5 separate regions of the Homo sapiens genome follow, and all the other regions are linked to region 2. The links come from fine-mapping of genetic effects on gene expression. A gene starts in region 2. Each other region holds a variant in brackets. All regions are shown on one strand. Distances are between the middles of the regions. Region 1 overlaps LINC02660 (long intergenic non-protein coding RNA 2660). Region 2 holds the start of PITRM1 (pitrilysin metallopeptidase 1). Region 3 holds the start of SNORD142 (small nucleolar RNA, C/D box 142). Region 4 holds the start of PITRM1-AS1 (PITRM1 antisense RNA 1). Region 5 overlaps PITRM1 (pitrilysin metallopeptidase 1).

Region 1 (4,120 bases), 750 kb after region 2:
TGTGTGCCACCACACCTGGACAGTTTTGTATTTTTATTGGAGACGGAGTTTCACCATGTTGACCAGGCTGGTCTCAAACTCCTGACCTCAACTGATCCACCCGCCTTGGCCTCACAAGGTGCTGGGATTACAGACGTCAGCCACTGCACCCAGCATGTAAAGTATTTTCTCTAACATATAATTTAAATACCAAATAAAGGCATGCTATGTGTTTCATTTAATGTCCAATTAAATGGAGTCAAATCTCACCCTCATGTCAAATTATCCTTCAGCCTATGTGCTGGGACAAAAGTTTTCATGACTGTAATCACCACAAGGCCTTCCTGTGTTGTACATGCAGATGGCCACAGCCTCACAGTCTAGTAGAAAAGTCTACCCGAAGCCTCTGAGAGGCCCAACATAATCAGGGACCACAGGAAACAGTAGAGCAATAGCAATGAAAAGGGGACGGAGTGCTGTGGGGTTCAGCCAGTGAAATGTGAAGAAACTCCAGGTCCTAGAATGTGGAATCCAGGAGAGCCACAGGCTTGCAGTCAGAGTTCGAGGGCCAGGCCGACTAAGAACTGGAGAGGCTGGGATTCACCGGGAGGCATGGGATGGAAGGGGTTGTCACCACACAGGAGCCAGGAACCCAGAGACAGGCAGCTGCAATGCAGAAAGAGGAAAAGACATCTTTTGAGGAAGCAAGCAAAAAATAATTCTGAATTAGTTTATACTGGTCCAGAGGTTTGTTTTAGTGCCAGCAATGGAGATATCAGTAAAAACTGAATCCTAATTATAATAATATTTTTAATGGAATAAATGCATTTTATCAACTTGAATTACTTATCTCCTTATTTTATATTATTATATATTACAAATATATGATTTTTATATATCTTTTTTTTTTTGAGACAGAGTCTCACTCTGTTGCCCAGGCTGGAGTGCACTGACCTGGTCTCCACTCACTGAAACCTCCACCTCACGGGTTCAAGTGATTCTCCTGCCTGAGCCTCCCGAGTAGCTGGGACTACAGGTGCAATGCCACCATGCCTGGCTAATTTTTTTTTTTTTTTTGTATTTTTAGTAGAGACAGGGTTTCACCATATTAGCCAGGATGGTCTCGATCTCCTGACCTTGTGATCTGCCCGCCTTGGCCATATATATCTTATTATATATGTATATATACTCTCCAGTCTGAGTTCTTCTCCTTCCTTTATAATTCTTACGTACGTGGTGTACATTGCAGAGAGCTTCATGAATGAAAACCATCTGAAATGTGTCACGGAATAATTATAAATATGGATACATGGAGAGGAATGTGGTAGAGCAAGACACTTTGAATCATCCACAATTCCCTCCACAACTGTCTTTTTTCCCAAGCTCTTTCAAATCTCAGATCATACCACTAAGAGGCTGTTACTGTTGGTGTTGTTCTTTGTGGTAGACAAAGAGGCATTGGCCACCTGCTGTTCTGTGCACTTTGCATGAATTCTGTAATTTTAAAGCGATCATAACGAGGAGGTGGATATGACCCCTGCTGTTAGGAGAGGAGGCATTGGGGCTGTTTTACATCACTCCTTTTATCCCAAAACTTTGTGGTTTTGGTAACGAGATAGGATGGCTTACCTTCCTTTTAACAAAGAAGATCTCCAGAATTAATATGTCTGAGGCACCATTGGCACATTTAGGTGGAAAGAGATTTGAAATAGTAATGCATTGCCAAAATTGCCTGAAACATCACATCATCTTTTTCAAAGAAATAACAGTTTCCCAAAACCGTTACCCTCCCAAACTCGCCCCCCTCCCATTGCAGCATATTCTAAATTATTCCCACGGGTGGGCCTTCGTTTTGAGAATGGACGTGATGCAATGTGCTACATTCTTGGAATTGGCAGCGGAAGAAAATTCTCAGAGTTTTCAGTGCTGGGAGCATAGATAAGGTGGCCAGTAGGCAGGGATTTCCCAACACGATTCATTCCTCACGAAAACCCTGAGTGCATGTCAACAAGCTCTTTTTCTAGATGTGGGCATCTCCGTCTTTGCTTTTTAAAATTCTTGTGGGTGAGAAGAAAATTCACCTGGCAAAGCTGCAGCTGGGCCCTCTGACGGCAGTCAGCAAAGACGCCTCCCTGACCTGGCGGTGTGTCTGAGCTCGTATTTTCCTTCCCGCATCTGTAAAGTGGTAGGTGACTGTAAAGATGATGATAAGCTTCGGAGCAGTTAGCACACTAACTGTAAAATTCCTGGGTGATGAAGGTGCCAGCAACCAAAGCAGGTGATTTTTGTCTCCTGGGATTCCCTTCAGCAGCAGGGCTGGCTCAGTTATGCTGGGTGCTTAGAGCACATGGTGGCCTGCCCACTGCC[C/T]GCACCTGGTGAAGAATGTAGAACATCCCGCACCAGCATAGAAGATCTGCAAAGAAACTCTCTACTTCATGCTACAGAATATTCAGCAAGTCAGTGGAAATAGCGATGCCAACCTATAAAGTACAGGAAAGGTGTTAAAAGAATGTGTAAGATTTAAGTACATTCTCTACATTCATATATTTATCTATTAATCAAAGCCCCAAATAGGTCATAACTTAGTTATTTTAAAATAACTTGTTTTTAGGGCTGGGTGTGGTGACCCACTCCTGAAATCCCAGCACTTCAGGAGGCCAAGGCAAGAGGATCACTTGAGGTTAGGAGTTCAAGACCAGCCTGGCCAACATGGCAAAAACCCATCTCTACTAAAAATACAAAAATTAGCTAGGCGTAGTGGCACTCGCTTGTAGTCCCAGCTACTCGGGAGGCGGAGGCAGAAGAATCATTTGAACCCAGGAGGTAGAAGCTTCAATGAGCCAAGATGGTGCCACTGCACTCCACCCTGGGAGACAGAGCAAGACTCTGTCTCAAAACAAAACCCCCCAAAACACCATCAATTTTAGTTGATTTTAAAATACAGAGGCGTGTAAAGAAGTGTGATTTTGATTGCACCAAGATAACTTGGACTGACTTTTTTTCATGGTTAACAATAAGTGACCTTCACATAGAACATTTAAGCAGACTAGACAGCTATAAAATAAACTTTTCCCTTCATCACATTCTTCCCCCAAAATTGTTGCTTTTTCTTGATTATTTTTCCAGAAAAATAAACACATACCTCAGCCTGTATGTGCACACTTACACACACGCACGCACACACACACAGACACACTATACTATTTTAAGTCCAGCAATATCTGGTGATAACCACCCATCTTCATAGAGCTGGCCCAGTGCCTGGCTGTTCCACATCCCGTGCAAGCAGCATTAACTGTGCACATAATAGCATATAAGGTGCATTTTGGTCTGGGTTTATGTTATCTGCTTATCTGCATTTCAACAGAAAAAGTTTTGTCTTGCTTTTGCCCTGATTCCTTTATGTTTTAACTGAGTTTACAATGAAAAAATACAAATATATAAATAAATATATGACACTTATTATGCTCAGAGACTAAAGCAGTTATTAAGAGAATTGTAAGAGAAACTACCAAAATACACAACAGCAAAATAAAGGACTAGTAAATATATATTTATAGCTTTTAATACTTAAATTGTCCCCATGAGAGACTGTCAACTTGACTGTAACTAGATTCCATGTGTATTTTATATGTTATTACACATATTGAAAAGATATATCACAATGACATTTAAAATTGATGAATGCAATTTACCCAACTGTTGACTTCACAGTCACTCTACGTGGCGCTCTGGATGACACAAAGATAAGACACTGGAGTTCTGAAGGATGTTACTCTAAATGGAGAAAAGAATACCTGCAGAAAAATGGCAATCATGCATTATAAATATAGCAAATGGCTTGCTACCAGTCAAAATAAAGGGCTTTTTATAGTCTGTAGATTCCCAAGTAAATATAGAAATCCTGCCTCCTTTCAAGTGACAGACTGTTTGATAGAAAGTCAACTTGTTGGGTGGAATGAGCTGGGACCAGGAGAAGGAGAAAGGGAGGGGTGAGAAAGAGTAGAAGGCTCATTTTAAAAATCATGTCTGGGCCAGGCGCAGTGGCTCACGCCTGTAATCCCAGCACTTTGGGAGGCCGAGGCAGGCGGATCACGAGGTCAGGAGATCGAGACCACCCTGGCTAACATGGTGAAACCCC
Region 2 (4,120 bases):
AAAAAAAAAAAAAAAACCTTACCAATATAAGGGCCTACAGTGGCATGTAACAAAGATATGGGTCACATAACGTGAAACAAAAGATACACATGATACAGTATTATCCTAAACAGGTATTATTCAAATAGGTAACAAGACATTGTCAGAACGCATAAAAATGGTAAAATATTAAAAAAAAAAAAAGCAAGGACATTTCTGTATGTTATGACCGTGATAATCTAAGAGGGAGGGAGAGAGTTACGAGCAGTTAGGGGAATCTTCAACTTGGTCACAGGGACACTAATTTTCTTTTTTGAGACAGATCTCACTCTGTTGCCCAGGCTGGAGTGCAGCGGTGCAATCTCGACTCACTGCAACCTCCACCTCCCGGGTTCAAGCAATTCTGTCTCAGCCTCCTGAGTGGCTGGGACTACAAGTGCTCACTACTACGCCCAGCTAATTTTTGTATTTTTAGTAGAGACAGTTTCACCATGTCGGCCAGGCTGGTCTTGAACTCCTGACCTCAAGTGGTCTGCCCGCCTTGGCCTCCCAACATGCTGGGATTACAGGTGTGAGCCACCGCGCCCAACCTATTTCTAATAATTATTCTCACCTGAATGAGATGGCTCACACCTGTAACCCCGCAATGCGAGAGGCTGAGGAGGGGGATCAAACCAGCCTGGGAAACAGAGCAAGATCCCTGCTCTTAAAAAACACGTAATTATTATTCTCTCCAATTGTATTATATGTCGTATGGGATTTTCTACATTAATGTATCCCACCGAAATATTTATTTTAAAGATAATATGTACAGGAAGAAAAAACCTATTCAGTCACTGGCAATATTATGAAGATATGCTATAACCAACATTTGCTTACTGATTTAGCAAATTTCAGAATTATGGGACAGAAGCGTTTTAAGAAGTTACTTATCAAGGACATGATAGGAAACTCCTGAGCGGTAAGGCCAGGCCGAACTCATGCCACGGACGCCCCGTGCCTCCCGGCCTGGGCCGGCAGCGCTGAACTATTACCTTATATTAAACACGGGCTCGTGGATTACCATGAACACTAAACTGCTTCGTCATTTTTTTCCCCATAAATTGAGTCATTAAAAAAACAAAACAGTTCAATTCCGGGAGGCGTCAGTTCTCTGAACACAGCGAGACTTTAAGTATGGGCTGTGGGCGCCTCGGGTCTCTTAAGGACTCGGCCTCCCAACAAAAATGAACTAGGAGCAAAGCTGTCAGCGAGAACCGCAAATGCCGACCCCATTTACTACCCCCGTTAAAGCCCACGCTAATGGAGGGCCCCGCCGGGAGCGCCGCGGGCAGGCCCGGCCCCCAGCCCGGGGCATCGCCCCTGGGAGTAGGAAGGAGCTCCGAGGTCCTCCGGCCTCGGAGCCTCGGATGCGGGAGCTCCAGGAAGGGCTCGGGGTGCGGGACGCCCACAGCTTGGGGAGCTGCCAGCCCCGGGCGCAGGGACGAGGACCCCTACGCCTCCGGCCTGCCCTGGACCCTCCCCTCCCGGGTACCAGCGCGCCGAGCGCCTCCCGTCGCAGCGTCTCACCCGCCGCTCAGCCGCCTCAGCACACACAGGCCCTGCCGCCCGCCGCAGCGCCACATTGCGCATGACGAGCACCTGGCTGGCGAGGAACCCCCTCTTAACCCGACGCAGGGCGCGGGGCGGGGCTTGCCGTGACAGCTACCACTCCTATTGGTCAACGCGAACAGCGACGTCCTCTGCGATAGGCTGTAGGTGAAAAGGGTAGGCCTCCACTGCTCTGGGACGGGCGGGAGGGCGGTGCGGACGGAGATGGGCGGGAGGGGCGGGGCCGACGTGCCGAAGGAGGCGGGCAAGGCGAGGGGCGTGGTACGGGTAGAAAGGGGCGGGGCCGTCTTGCCGAAAGGGGCGGGGTTCGGCCAGCAGCAGGATGTGGACAGATGATAGGAGGGGGAAGTGGGCAGGCGAGAAGTGGGGCGTGGCGAGAGGCGTGTGTATGCAGATGAAGTGGGGCCTGGTGAAGGGCGGGGCTGCGCTGGTGAAAAGAGGGGCTCCTGGAATGGCGTGCTGTGTTGGGTGGGGCTGTGCAAGTGATGGGAGGGGCTTAGCGAGGGGTGGCTCTTTGCAGGTGAGGAGTGGAGACCAGTGGGAGAGGGGATTGCAAGTGAGCTGAGCCTTGGGGGCGGGGCTTGCAGGTGACAGGGTGGAGCCTAGTGGGCGGGGATGCAAGTGAGCTGGGCCTTGGGGATGGGGCTTGCAGGCGATGGGGTGGAGCCTGGTGGGGCGGGGCTGCAGGTGAGCTGGGCCTTGGGGGCGGGGCTTGCATGCGAGAGGTGGGTCCTTGTGGGGGCAGGGCTGGCAGAAGTGGGTGGGGCTTGGTGATGGACCGCGGTGTTCAGGTGAGGGTAGTGGCCTGGTTGGGGGCTGCCGGAAGCTGGGCCAGGTGAAACTTGGTAGCCCTCTCTGGCCTTGGTGTGGGCGTTGGTCCTGTTTGTAGGGCTGAGCTGAGCTCCAAAGGCGTTCTGCTGCCCCGCCAGGCCTGAACCTTGGGGTCTGGGGGCTTCTTGGATGAGATCTCAAGGCTGCATGGCAGGTCCCAGGGCCAGGGCCCCACGGTGTCACACGTATCACGGATGGCCGCCAGCGAAGCACAGCACAGCTCCGAGCTGCTGCATGGGAGCCTGTGGCCCCCGCTGCTGCCTCCGCTTTCCTCTTCGTTTCGTGTCTAGGAAGATGCACCTGAGCCCCCTGACATTGCCCAAGTGCCCAAGGGCCCTTCTGGGAACCCCCAGAGAGGCTGAAGGAGGCCCCCGTAGGAGTGGGTGGTTCTGCACTGTGGGCCAGAAGGGGCCCTGGGATTAGCCACGCTTGGAGAGGGTGGGGTAGCCCTTGGAGGAAGTCCGCACCAAGTCTGACCTTCCGGGTTTCTCAGAGCCTCTCTTCCTTCCTCCCTTCACCTTCTCCCTCTTTTTTTCCCCTTGTATCACGAATACAAACAGGCTCAAATCTCCCTCTGTCTCCTAATGGGCTCTGAAAAAAAAAATTAAAAATTAAATGGTAAGTAGATGGCTGCAGTCGGCTTGAACAAGCTAAAACTTTGGAAGCAATGTGGAAGGTAATACTGTGGGAAAAAGTCCCAACGTGTCTACCCTAAACTCTCCATAGGGCAGCCAGTTCTGGGCTGCAGGTAAACACGTACCTCCTTATTGAAGAGCCCAAAGGAACCAGAACACAGGCAATAATAGGAGCGACAGACACAAACACGCTCTGCGCATCACCCGTCTTCTAGGGAGAATTTGGGTGTGTGCACACAAAATATCCGATCTAGGTCTCAATCAATTTAGAAAGTTAATTTTGCCAAGGTTAAGGGCATGCCCATGACACAGCCCCAGGAGGTCCAGATGACATGTGGCCAACATGGTCGTGGCACAACTTTTTTTTTTTTTTTTTTTTAATACCGTGTCTCACTCTGTCGCCCTGGCTGGATTGCAGTGGCGCAATCTTGGCTCAGTGCAACCTCAGCCTCCCGGGCTCAAGCGAGTCTCCTGCTTCAGCTTCCCGAGTAGCTGGGATTACAGGCACCCACCACTATGCCCAGCTAATTTTTTTTTTTTTTGTATTTTTAGTAGAGACGGGGTTTCACCATATTGGTCAGGCTGGTCTCGAACTCCTGACCTCGTGATTTGCCCGCCTCCGCCTCCCAAAGTATTGGGATTACAGGCGTGAGCCACCGCGCCTGGCCACAACTTGCTTTTATACATTTTAGGGAGATATGAGACATCCACCAATATATGTAAAATGTAGATTGGTTGGGTCCGAAATGGCAGGGCAACTCCAAGTGGGGGCTTCCAGGTTGTAGGTAGATAAGAAGGAAATGGTTGCATTATTTTGAGTCTCTGATTAGACTTTCACTGAACACACAACTTATATTTGAGAGGAGGGTAGAGAAGCAGTCACTGATGCCTTAGTCTGACTCAGTGAAACAATGGGGCAGAGGAAGTGATCAGATATGCGTTTGTCTCACCCGTGAGCCTCAGGAGGATGACTTTGAGTTCTGCCTGTCCTTGGTCCACAAGGAATTTCCTTGTGGACAAATTGTGAGAAAAGTATGTGGCTTTTTAAAATCCTTATAGCTGTC
Region 3 (4,100 bases), 39 kb before region 2:
CAGACGTGTCCTCCCTATCTGGGAGGAGGCTCCCCAAGACCCAAGCCGCGAGAGCTGCAGCCTCCTTGGCCACGCTCACTGCCACACTTGGTTGGCACTTCCCAGCCTGCAGTGCCTGGCACACAGTAGGTACTTAGTAGAAGTTTATTGTCTGATTAACAAAATACTCTCTTCCAGTCCAACGTGGAGCACCTGACGGAGAAAATGAAGACCACCATCCAGAGAGGCCTTGTGCTCAGGTGAGAGAGAGAGACCAGGGGCTGATCTTACCCTCACCGCCACACCCTGGTTCTTAGATTCTAGTCTGTGACTTGGGCTGGATGAGTGGTCATTTCTTTGCCGCTAGAGTGCACTACACACACTGAGCAGGTGCAGAAGACAGCTGTGGTGCATTGCTCTAAAGGCTTGCCTGCATTTAGACAACTAATATTTTTGCTTTATAGTCTCTTATTCTTTGATATCTTGCAATCATTTCCCTAATTAGCACCTGATGTTTATGAAGAAAGAAGGAAATACAGTCATCCCTCTTAGCCTCAGGGACTGTGTCCCAAGACTGCAGTGGGTGTCTGAACCTGGGGATAGTACCCGCCCCCTGTATACACGAGGTTGCTTCCATCTGATAACCAAGGTGGCTACTGAGTGACTCGGGCAGGAGGCACAGACAGCATGGAGATGCAGGGCACAGGGATGATTGACGTTCTGGGTGGGACAGCAAGAGAGCACGAGATTTCATCACGCTACTCAGAATGGTGTGCAATTTAAAACTTACATATTTATTTCTGGAATTTTCCATTTAATATTTGTGGGCCTCAGTTGACCACTGGACCATGGGTAACAAACTGCAGAAAGCAAAACCGTGAACTGGAGGGACTGGTGTTGATGTAGAATCACCATAGGGTTGGGGGATGCGGGAGTCCAGCCTCCCAGGGCCATCTCCCCAAGCAGGGAGCCACGTGCCCACTGCACGCTAAACAAAGTGACTCCTTCTCGCTCGTTTCAGAAATGAGAGCTGCAGTGAAAACTACACCACCGACTTCATTTACCAGCTGTATTCAGAAGAGGGCAAAGGCGTGTTTGACTGCAGGAAGAACGTGCTGGGTCACATGCAGCAGGTAGGCCCGAGACTGCATGAGGGGCCACAAAGCCCCTGTCATGTGACTTTTAAAAGATTAGTGTCTTATTTTAGCCATTGTGGGGAAAAATGTATAAGTAAATTCCAAGATGATAAAAAACATCTGAACTTTTTGAGACAGAGTCTTGCTCTGTTGCCCAGGCTGGAGTGCAGTGGTACAAGCTTGGCTCACTGCAACCTCCACCTTCCAGGTTCAAGTGATTCTCCTGCATCAGCCTCCCGAGGAGATGGCAGTATAGGCACCCACCACCACACCCAGCTAATTTTTGTATTTTTAGTAGAGATGGGGTTTCACCACGTTGGCCAGGCTGGTCTCAAACTCCTGACCTCAGATGATTCACCCACCTCAGCCTCCCAAAGTGGTGGGAATACAGGCCTGAGCCACTGTGCCCAGCCAAAACATCTGAACTTTTAAGTGATGCCAAACATCACCAGCTTTAGGATTCTTTTGTTGGTGAGGTTTGAGTAATGGGGATTTTAAGGGAACTGTCAGCTTTCATGAAAACAGTGATACCCCCATTACTTGGAAATGCTTATTCAAATTAAACACTTCATCAAGTTAAAAACTGGAGCTTCCCTAAGATTTAAAATGGATTATCAGACATGTAGTATACTTGACACCCCAAGTCAGAATGACCTGGAATGAGCTGCACACAGGCACACACGTGTTATGAGCTGAGCCTGGGACACAGGGTCCAGGCCTCCTAACTTGCACACACTCCTTCCTCACCACCTCCTATTCTTATACTTTTAAGCCAGAGCCCATGAATCCCCTGCAATGATGATGAAATAGTAGGCATATGTGTGATCTTCTTAAAGAATCCACAACGGTTATCAGATTAAAGCTGTGACCCATCCCCAG[C/T]TCAGATGAGTTCATGAAATCCTGATTTAAGATTTTAAAATAATGAAGATTGTTAGTTGACTTGTTCGGTTTATTAAAATCCTCATCTTACTGAGCGGGGGGAACACTTGATACTTTTTCTTAACAGGCCAAGTTCAGGCTACGGGAATCACAGGTTTTGTTCTGTTCCAACTATAAGGACCTAGAAATAAAAACATGAATTCTGCAAAATAGAAATTGTCATTTCTATTTAACAGCAAAGTGTTACTGTATAACTGGTATTTCATATAACTCTAACCACCAACAGGGTGGGGCACCCTCTCCATTTGATAGAAACTTTGGAACCAAAATCTCTGCCAGAGCTATGGAGTGGATCACTGCAAAACTCAAGGAGGCCCGGGGCAGAGGTAAGGGGTCTGGGGAGGGAGGCCACAGCCTCGTGATGCAGGCCGTCCTGCCTTGGTGAAAATGCTGTCCTATCGGGGAGAAGTAGGGTGCTGGTTCCTTCTTCAGTTCAGTACTGAGCTGCACGTGATGTTTTACTCCTGATCTCTGAGTGTTGCTATTTAACCAACCTTGGATTCCTGGGATAAGATCAGCTTGGGTATGACATGTTCTCTTTTATCACTGCTAGATGCAGTCTGCAGTTCTTTTGTGCAGGCTTTTTGCTCTAGAGATCCTGAACGTTGGCCAGCAATTTCCCCTCACAGTTTAAGTGGGGCCTTCTATTTTTTGAATGTTTGCTAGGACAACCTCCTTGTGACTATCCATCAAAACTTCCAGTTTTGAGGAAGATCTGACTGCTGAATGAATTGTTCATGTTTGTAGAACTGCATGTTCGTAGAACTGTGCATGTTCTTCCTTAAATCAGTTCTGTAAGTTACATATTCTAAGAAATCTTTAAACTGAAGTTTCAAGAAACATGACTTTTTTATAATACTCTTGTTAATGGCTCCAACATGGCTGTTCCCCACTCATTCCTGAGTGGCTCTTTGTGCCAGCATCTTTCTCACCCCCACCCCCCTCAGCTTTCTTAATCAGTCATAGCAGATGTGTGCTTTTATTCCGGCAAACCACTATCACTGCCAGTGTCCAACTTAGAAAAATGACAGTCTATAAAAACCAGTGATGTGAATAGTTTCAATGGGTTTGTCTTTTTGAAGAACTGACTTTGGCTTTGATTCTTTCTACAGCGATTTTCTTTTGCTAATTTAGCTATGGATGCTTTTTGCCTCTCAGTGTGTGTATGTGTGAGCATAAATTAGTGTCCTGTAATTTAAGCTAATTTCCCTATTCCACTATTTAGTGAAAAATTCTCTCCACTGGGAGGAAAAAACAAAAGCTGCTTTCCAGGAAGCCCTCGGGGCAGTCCCACAGGAGCAGAGCTGCACGAGGCCAGGTGCTGGCCCCACTGCGCGGCTGTTCTCAGTCTCACTGGGCTTCCAGGCCGGGTTCAGCATGGTTCTGAGGAATCTCAGTTCTCATCTCGCCCCGTGATTCTGCTCCCCCACCTGCCCATGTTGACAGGGTGTTATTAATCTTTTTTAAAATCTTTTATAGGAAAAAAATTTACCACCGATGATTCCATTTGTGTGCTGGGAATAAGCAAAAGAAACGTTATTTTTCAACCTGTGGCAGAGCTGAAGAAGCAAACGGATTTTGAGTAAGTTGGCTGGGTTCCCTGAGGCAATAAGACCCCAATGTGAGTACGGGACAGGGGAATGGCCATTGCTGTTGCTGTCGGCAACTCATTCAGGGGTTTGAGGAACTGGCTTTTCTGAAGCTCAGTTAAAAAAATACTAGGTCTTGGCTGGGCGCGGTGGCTCATGCCTATAATCCCAGCACTGTGGGAGGCCGAGACAGGTGGATCACAAGGTCAAGAGATCGAGACCAACCTGGCTCATATGGTGAAACCCCATCTCTACTAAAAATACAAAAATGAGCCAGGCATGGTGATGCACACCTGTAGTCCCAGCTACTCAGGAGGCTGAGGCAGGAGAAATCGCTTGAACCCGGGAGGCAGAGGTTGCAGTGAGCTGAGATTGCACCACTGTACTCAAGCCTGGCGACAGAGCGAGACTCCACCACTGGGTCTTCGGGAATAATTTTAAACAATGGTTTCATTTG
Region 4 (4,120 bases), 33 kb before region 2:
TAAAATAATGACTCAAGCAGAGGTTAAGTCAGAGTTGCCCTTTATTTTTAGATTCTTAAATATTCTAGAATGAGGTAAAACGAGCCTGCCAGTACAAAGTGAAAATTCTACATGGTGCATCTTTGGCGCTTCATGCATGATTATTTCAATGAACCTCTTCCTGGTCACTCTTAAGATAGATCTGAGTTTTTGACTCGCCAGTCAAGGGCTTTGGCGACACTCAATGACATAATATTCTTGGAAAAAGCAGTAGCATTTCTGACTTTTCATATTCAGCTCGGAGGTGTATTGTCTCGGGCTCCTGTGCAGTCGAGCGCCACGGCTGCTCATTGGATGATCCAGGATGGGTCCTTGGCAATTTTCGGGTTCTCGGGTCCGAGGATGGCCAGGCCGTGTGTGCTCTTCCCAGTGCCGAGGTATCTGAGAGGAAGGCAGGCGTGGTCAGCAAGGACTGGCTTCTGCGTGAGCGCTGTTAGAGTCAGCACGAGGGCTTCCAGTCCCAGACGCTGTCTCCCCCGCTCCCCACTCACCTATCGCTCACGGCCAGGAGCTTGTCGTGGCTGACAGCAAAGAGCTGCTCTCTGTGGGCCTGCTTCATCTCATCCGAGAGGCCGTACAAGAAGTGGTCCATTCCTAGAAGACAATCCACAGGCACGATGGAGCCGCTGCCCGGGAGCTCGCGTTGTGGGCTGTGCACTCATGTCCCGGAGGGGACACAGGCATCTCACTGTCATTTCACGTGCATGTTTCAACCACAGGGATGTGTCTAACAACCCAGAGATCACACCCCGACCTCCAGCTCCCACGTGCCACGCTGACCCCTACCCACGCCTGCTTCTGCAGCAGGGATGCAGTCAGCGCCGCGTGAGGCTGATGATGCTGTGAGCAAAAGCGGCTCCAGAGAGTAACGTGGCCATGCCCGGGCCGTGCCCACGTCCTCCTTCCACCCTAAAGAGCCCGGACACTGCCATGGGTTGGCCCCACTGGGTCTCAGGTCAGTAAAACAAATGACAGGATGCACTCTTCTCGCCCGGATGTCAGGAAGCGTGTTTAGGGTGTCAGACGTGGAAATCGTATCACAAGCAAGGATGGAGGCACCAGAAGCTAGTGCTCCTGCCCATGCATGCCGGGAACTTGGAAAACAGCAACGTCATCTGTGAGGCTGTGGGTTGAGATTCTCACTGTTATACTCAAAATACCTTTGTCTGAAGGAGCGACAGGAGCATCTACGGTTGAGAAGACAGAAAGTTTGGCTTCGTCGATGTCTTGCTGTGTGAATTTTCCAGACTTAGCCCAGTCGACAGCCTTCCCAAAAGACTGGAGCGTCTCTATTGTATTTGGGTCCCTAGGAAACCCAGAGAAATAAACGGGCAAGCATTTTACCAGTGGACAAGTTTATGACAAACCTCTGTCGACTTAACAGTTCAACATCTTCTATGGGTTAACAGCTCTATTTTATATCTGATTTAGTCCAAACAGCCCACTGACAAATCGCTCAATTACTCTCAATGGAAATTTAAATCTGATCACATAAGCCTTTCAACATGTTCTCCCTCTTAGACAAGGTCTGTCTGCACAAAGTCCTCCCTAGATTATTTAAATACACTTCTCTGTGACCTCATCAGGAGAGGAAAGTCAGTGGAGGGTAGGGGCAGGTCAGGATTACAGGGAAATTACAAA[G/C]ACTTACATGGAAAAATTAAGCAAACAAAGGTTTTCCTTTCATCTCCCTGAAGACACACCCAGGGTAGTACAGGAATCAGCCTGAGGGGGCCAATCCAGACTTCCCTTCGTGTAAATGCAAAGAGCCCAGCCCTCCCTTCACCCTGAGCTGCAGAGGGGCGGCTGTGAGCTGCTTCCCCATCCTTGTCTAGAAGCATGGCTTCCAGCACAGCAAGGGGGAGAACTCATCAGAGTGGCAATGGCTACCTACGTATCTACCTACATGCCTGCCTACCTACCTAATCTAGCTATGCATCCACGGGACAGGGTCTCACTGTCGCCCAGGCTGGTGTGCAGTGGCGCAATCTGCTCACTGCAGTTTCAACCTCCCCAGGCTCAAGGGATCCTCCCGCCTTAGCCTCCTGTAGCTAGGACCACAGGCACTTGCCACTGCGGCCGGCTGGCTCCTTCTTAAAAACTGTTGGAATACATGTTCTCTTAGGCAGCAAAGCCATAGAAAATCAAGAATATTGCTTTACAGTAACGGTGTTATGTTTATGAAAGCTAACAGAACTGCATCCACATCAGGCACCTCCAACTGAAATGAGCTAAGAACGCTCTCAGGCTGTATCAGCCCCCTCACCTGGGGCCTGTGTTTCAGGACCCCCACGGCAGGGCTGCAACCTCAGACAGCCACTATGGATACTATGTTTTTTTCCTATACCTATGATAAAGTTTATAGATTAGGTGCAGCAAGATATTAACAAAATACAACAATTATACTGTAATAAAAGTTACGCTGATGGGCTACTATTAAGTAAAACAAGGGTTCTGTGAACAGAAGCTCTTGGATACCCACAGCGTATCTGATACCTAGACGGCTACTGGGTGACCAACAGGCAGGTACCGTAGACAGCGTCAGCTTTCATCCCACTGCTTAGAAGAATGGTGTACAATTTAAAACTTAGGAAGTGTTTATGTCTGGAATTTTCCATTTAATATTTTCAGACCGAGGGGGACTGTGGGTAATAAACCATGGAAGGCAAACCCACGGATGGAGGCACTACCGTGTTCTGCCAAAATATGCTGGCTGAAGCCAGGGTTTACTGAAGGCAGAATGCTTCCTGTTTCGGCTGCTGGCCCTAATCCTCGCGCCAGAAAGGACATTGCTGGGTGTGGCTAAGTGCCCAAGGAGTGAAAAGAAGCACACAGAACAACTTTTGTCTAAAATTCACTGCAGTAGAAGAAAATGACACTGATAATCATGAGTAGAAGACTAAAACGACGTGTGCATCCCAATGTGTGAACTAGAGCAAAACTCACCTGTAAGAGTAAAGGGTGAAAATCCCATTGTGGCTGAGTTTTGCGCCTCCACCATAAGCACCGCCTTTTTCTCGAATTTCTGTATGCAAGAATTTGGCAGTCATCAAACGTGCAAGGATTTTAAGACTGAAATGATTAAAAAATGCAAGTTAATACCGTGGCTGATAAAAAAGCATAGACAATGAAGTAATTGTTGGATTAAGTGAAAATGAAAATCGAGTTGTAAAATAATGCTGCATAAATTATGGTCCCATATTTTGGTCTTGTTTTTTAAGAGATGGGGTCTCGCTCTGTCGCCAGGCTGGAGTGCATTAGTGCAATCACAGCTCACTGCAGCTTTGAACTCCTGGGCTCAAGGGATCCTCCCACAACAGCCTCCTGAGTAGCTGGGCCTACAGGTGTGTGCCACCACGCCTGACTATTTTTACAGTTTTTGTAGAGGCAGGGTCTAGCTTTGTTGCCCAGGCTGGTCTCAAACACCTGGCTTCAAGTGATCCTCCTGCCTTCAAAGTGCTGAGCTTACAGGCATGAGATTTTCTTTTCAATTAACCAAAACTAAAAAGCACAAGGAAGCACAATTTTCAAACAGTTGGCTTAGATTACAGGGTTGAAGGGAGAGGTGGTGGGGAGGGAATCTTAACACTTCCAGCACCACACTGCTTAACTTGTTCCAATGCACATGTGGCATTTTTAAAATCTCGTGAAGTAGAAAGAGGTTATTTCTATTATAAAGGCAAATGAGCAAATGAACATTTATTTAAATGTCTCACATCAGAATATGGAAAGAAAGGAAACTGAAGTGAGTTTTATAAGAATCCCTTAAGAAAACACACACTCTCTGATAAAGCACATTTCTAGGAACAGGGCCAATTTCCTCTGCCTTCCACTGTGAACGGTAACATCACATTCAAGCTGATTCTAGAACACATCCACCTCCGACAGAAGGCGGGGCAGACAATGATGGGAGGGTCTGCAGCACAGACACAGGCTCCTTGAAGACGCCCGTGGTGAGATCAGCCCCAGGTCGCCGCTTCCACAGACAGGCCTTTTCCTAAAGTGGATGAAGGGAGTCAAATAGGCCAGGTGGGAAATCAAGGAAGGAGTGGGCGTGTTCCCAGGGGCTGTGGTGGGAGAAGTC
Region 5 (4,120 bases), 28 kb before region 2:
GATCTGCCTTTGCTGTCATTCACGCATCTGTCCTCATGAAGGCTTAACCTACCATGTTTATCAGAAATCTCAGCCTAAATTCATTCGATTTTTACCTAGAGATGAGGTGAGTACATGGGGCATGTTGAAAGCAGTCTGTGTTTAAGGTCATAGGTATCTGTATTGTTCATAGGACTCCTCAATAATAGAAATTGTTTACAAAAATGACTGGCTCTAAAACTGGGTCTCTGTTCACAAAGACTGCTGGTTAAAGAGGAGCACTCGTAGACTCACACAGCCCCAGGTCCAACACTCAGAGTCAGCACAGACTTTTCCTGTGCTAAAACACGCCCTGTGAACTCGAACAGCCTTGACAAGCTCTTCCGTAAGGCTCAGGCCTGAGAGGTCCCGACCTACACCCTCCTACCTGGCATGATCTGGGTCCGTGTAGGGGACAGTTCGGATGCATTCACCCACGTAATTCACCGGGAAGGGCATCAGGAAGTGAGTCTTCATCTGCCAGGGCTTGAAGGTGGGTTCCTGAGGGACACGGTATGGTCAGAGGCGGCTGTGCTGCCATGCACCGCCCACGGCACTGGGACTGGACCCACTCAGGGGTCAGAGGCGGCTGTGCTCCCACGCACTGCCCACGGCACTGGGACTGGAGCCATCTCAGGGGTCCCATCTCCGTGACACTCTGCAGCCAGGTGCTGGGGCGCGAGAGCAAGGCACTGCAGTTCCGTCACTCCACACAATTTCTCACTGTAAAACTGACATGAAGTCCTCCAATCTTGACGTGATGCCTTAACGTATACTGTTCAATTAAAAACATTTCATTCTACGCCGTTTATATCACAGTTACATATTTATATTTCATATCATATTATATCATAGGAATGTGTTAAATCACTCTACTCCACAAGGAACCAAACCAAACAGCATCAGCACCAGGCTGAGTCGCGGAAAGGATCTGTCAGACCGCTCCACTGGCATCGACTCAGCTCGGGAGCTACGTTCAAAGAAGGGTGAGTTGCCCGGGAGGAGACCACCCAGAGCAGTAGCCCTCTTCCTGGGCACAGGGAAGACGCACCCCATACCAGGGCCCTCCTCGGCACAGGAGGACACACCCCCACCAGGGCCTTCACTCAGTACTGTCTGAGAGAGAAAAGGCTCAGGGTGGCAGTGACAAAGGATGCACTGAACTCGCAACTCTAGGGACACGCCAGCCCCACAGACAGGCGGACGGAGGAACATTCGAACATCAGTGGCAGACACAGCCATGCAGGGAAGCACCCACCCGCTGGCAACCCGGATGGGCTGTGGTTCTTACCATGACCAGCTTCCTAATGACCTGGGAGCCATGGGGAACGTGGGCATCTCCACCAGAGCTGCTGGGCACAGGTTTCTGAAAATCAAGTTTCCAAGAGAAAAGAGAAAAATCCAGAACTCACTTGAAATATATAAGAAGTAACAGAGTTTATAAAATTCACACAGCTAATAACAAGTGTTAGGGCAGGTGTAAGTGTTTTAAATAATAAACGCTTAAAAAAAATAAAAATAGGCTGGGCAGAGTGGCTCATGCCTATAATGCCAGCACTTTGGAGGCTGAGGTGGGAGGATTGCTTGGGTCCAGGAGTCTGAGACCAGCCTGGGCAATGTAGTGAGCTCCCATCTCAACAAAAAATTTTTAAAAATTAGCTGGGCATGGTGGTGCACACCTGTAGCCCCAGCTACTTGGGAGGCTGAGATTGGAGGATCACTTGAGCCCAGGAGGTCACGGCTACAGCTAGTTGTAATGGCACCACTGCACTCCAGCCCGAGTGCCAGAGACAGACCCTGTCTCAAAATAACAAAAACTAAAAAAAGAAATAAAGTGAGTAAAAGAAATTAAGAAAAT[A/T]TTAAAATAAATTTTCAGACAGTCAAGGAAAAGGTAGCCTTGTTATATGGTACAAAGAAAATATTTTAACCTTTCTTTCTGCACTTTCTTGTCATTAATCTGTCAAATCAAGAGGACATTTAAGGTGAAAGGGTTGCAGGCAGAGGGGCCTGGAGCAGCAGGAGGCCACCTCCCAAAGGCTCCACTCCCAGGGGCCAACAGAGAGACCACATCCAGAATTGAACCAGGGATACGCAGACACCAACGGAGAAGACATGAGCGTCAACCTCCTCCACGGAGCAGCACGGCTTCTCTACTGACATCCATGAACTAGACTACAACTCTCTAAGTTAATCAAATTTACTAAGTTAGTTATCACCGACATCACTGTTCCATGTCAAATCCATGGATTCATGAGTCAAAGAAACAGCAGTGAACAGCCTTCAGGCTACGGTTTGGGCCATTCCTCTGCCAGCGTATTCCAGCCAAAGTCTGTTTTCCTATCAGACTACTCACTGCAAGGCACAGAAGTGAGCGCGGGATCTAAGGCCACACCGCAGGGTCTGAACTCACTTAACTGGCCCAACACTGCACAAGATACTTAATCCTCCTGAACCTCAGTTTCTTCATCTGCGTACGGGGGATATGAACCCCCACATGCTGGACTGCTCTGAGAATTGAGTTAATGCGTGTAAAACATGAGAGCTGCTCTGGCACCCACCAGGCGCTCACCGGGCGCCAGCACCACCAGTGCATACCTCGACCGTGTGTGGGCGCACAGGCCTCCGTTCCTTTTTACTCCGACCGATGCTTCTAAGGAAGTCTTCGACCGCTTTTTCTGTCTGAGGCATCTGCTGAGGAGTCGCATTCACTGAACACCTGTTTGAAAAATTATGTATACATAAAACCACTGTTAGAAAAAACAGTTTTAGTAATTCATCACATTTTGTATAACTCAATAATGTTGTTTTTATAGAAAATACTGTTCAGAGTGTTAAACAGCAGCCAAATGTGGAAATGCCACGGCCGCCTCCCTGCTCTTCAGTGCTTCAGGTTATCAAGAGATTTCCGCACAGTTCAATGTGGCAGCTAATGAAGCCGTCCATACGCGGAGCCTGTGACTCTAAACTCTAGTTCTTCTGAAGAGCAAAGAAAATACAGAGACTATTAAGATCTGCTAACCGTGCCTTCGGAATTACACTATCAAAACACTGACAACTTTTAAAATTACTGTCCAGAAGTCATCAATTTGAAAATGTGAACTGGTTGTTAAAGCAGAACATTATAAACTGCAAAAAAATACCATGCTCTCAAAGTTACATGAAAATAGAACTCTTCCAAATTCCACAGAATTGCAAATACTACTATCATATAAAAGCTACTTGAACTCTACAGTATATTGACAGAGTGTATATTTTTTCCTTTCAGCTGTAAATCCTGAACTTATTCTAGTTAAAGTAACAGCAGGTACCATTATATTAATACTAACTATATCCCAGGCATGTATGCTGCCTTGCAGATATTCTTTCTTTTATTCCTTACGATAAACCTGCAAAGGAAGGTTTTATGGAGGAGGAAGCAGAAGACGCAAGTGGGTCAGCTGCCCAGGACCGCCTGGGAGCGAGTGTGAGTGCTGACCCGGCGGCACCAGAAGCCAGGCCTGCCTGAGCCCAATGCCAAGAGACCCTGATCGCCAGGCTTCACCTCTGGCCACCCACAGACCGCCCTGTAGAATCTGCCAGGGATTCTCAGGACATGACTGGGGAAAGGCATCAGGACTCTGTGTGAAGAAGGACAAGTGACTTCAGCAAACATTTTCTTGTTAAGTACTGATGAATACATCAATGTCACTGACAATAAGATGCTGAAAATAAACAATCATTTTTAAACTTTATTCATGCTCACACATCTGAGGGCATAAGGCCAACTGAAGGTATAGGACTGAGCTGCCAGATGTTTCCTCAAAGCATCACATAATTTTATAAGAAACTGCACTTTTACTCTGGTCTTCAGCAAGCTCACCTTTACAGATACCTCAGTTACGGACCATGTGCTTTTGGAAGCAATATAACTACTTGCCCTCAATCTATTTGCACTTCTAGCACAAAATTAGCCTGCTTTCTTCCCCATCTCCTACAACTTTTAATAGGCTTAAAATATTTTCTTAGTTTGTTAGAACACTTGACATTTACAATAAATTCTATAACCTTTACCAAGCACTCTATCTTGAAGTTTCTACAAGTAAGAAATACCTAAAAACTATAC

The links. PIP is the estimated chance that this variant, and not a neighbour inherited with it, causes the effect.
Region 1: its variant is fine-mapped to the expression of PITRM1 in subcutaneous fat (GTEx, PIP 0.94).
Region 3: its variant is fine-mapped to the expression of PITRM1 in testis (GTEx, PIP 0.98).
Region 4: its variant is fine-mapped to the expression of PITRM1 in monocytes (TOPMed, PIP above 0.99). The same link has a PIP of 0.9 or more in CD4 T cells.
Region 5: its variant is fine-mapped to the expression of PITRM1 in whole blood (TOPMed, PIP above 0.99).

The regions. Positions count from the first base shown.
Region 1 is chr10:3,925,027-3,929,146 of GRCh38, forward strand. The region is part of intron 1 of LINC02660 (long intergenic non-protein coding RNA 2660); the gene reads left to right. Among named protein-coding and RNA genes, the nearest start is that of LINC02660, 15 kb to the left of the region's middle. The variant C/T (reference allele first, on the strand shown) is at 2,347.
Region 2 is chr10:3,171,169-3,175,288 of GRCh38, forward strand. It overlaps PITRM1 (pitrilysin metallopeptidase 1), which reads right to left and starts at 1,614. Exons shown (of 27, transcript NM_014889.4): 1 at 1,549-1,614. The coding sequence starts at 1,604. RefSeq lists silencers at 1,139-1,978, 2,269-2,428 and an enhancer at 2,627-3,164.
Region 3 is chr10:3,132,203-3,136,302 of GRCh38, forward strand. PFKP (phosphofructokinase, platelet) reads left to right here. Exons shown (of 22, transcript NM_002627.5): 18 at 178-239; 19 at 1,001-1,112; 20 at 2,281-2,380; 21 at 3,534-3,636. SNORD142 (small nucleolar RNA, C/D box 142) reads left to right here and starts at 1,902; the gene lies at 1,902-2,096. RefSeq lists an enhancer at 3,781-4,100. The variant C/T (reference allele first, on the strand shown) is at 1,995.
Region 4 is chr10:3,137,705-3,141,824 of GRCh38, forward strand. It overlaps PITRM1 (pitrilysin metallopeptidase 1), which reads right to left. Exons shown (of 27, transcript NM_014889.4): 24 at 2,983-3,108; 25 at 1,200-1,345; 26 at 531-633; 27 at 24-420. The coding sequence ends at 327. It overlaps PITRM1-AS1 (PITRM1 antisense RNA 1), which reads left to right and starts at 3,897. Exons shown (of 4, transcript NR_038284.1): 1 at 3,897-4,065. RefSeq lists an enhancer at 3,637-4,120. The variant G/C (reference allele first, on the strand shown) is at 1,681.
Region 5 is chr10:3,142,983-3,147,102 of GRCh38, forward strand. It overlaps PITRM1 (pitrilysin metallopeptidase 1), which reads right to left. Exons shown (of 27, transcript NM_014889.4): 21 at 2,614-2,734; 22 at 1,310-1,384; 23 at 407-519. It overlaps PITRM1-AS1 (PITRM1 antisense RNA 1), which reads left to right. Exons shown (of 4, transcript NR_038284.1): 2 at 1-106; 3 at 874-1,004; 4 at 1,989-4,120. Among named protein-coding and RNA genes, the nearest start is that of PITRM1-AS1, 3.4 kb to the left of the region's middle. The variant A/T (reference allele first, on the strand shown) is at 1,877.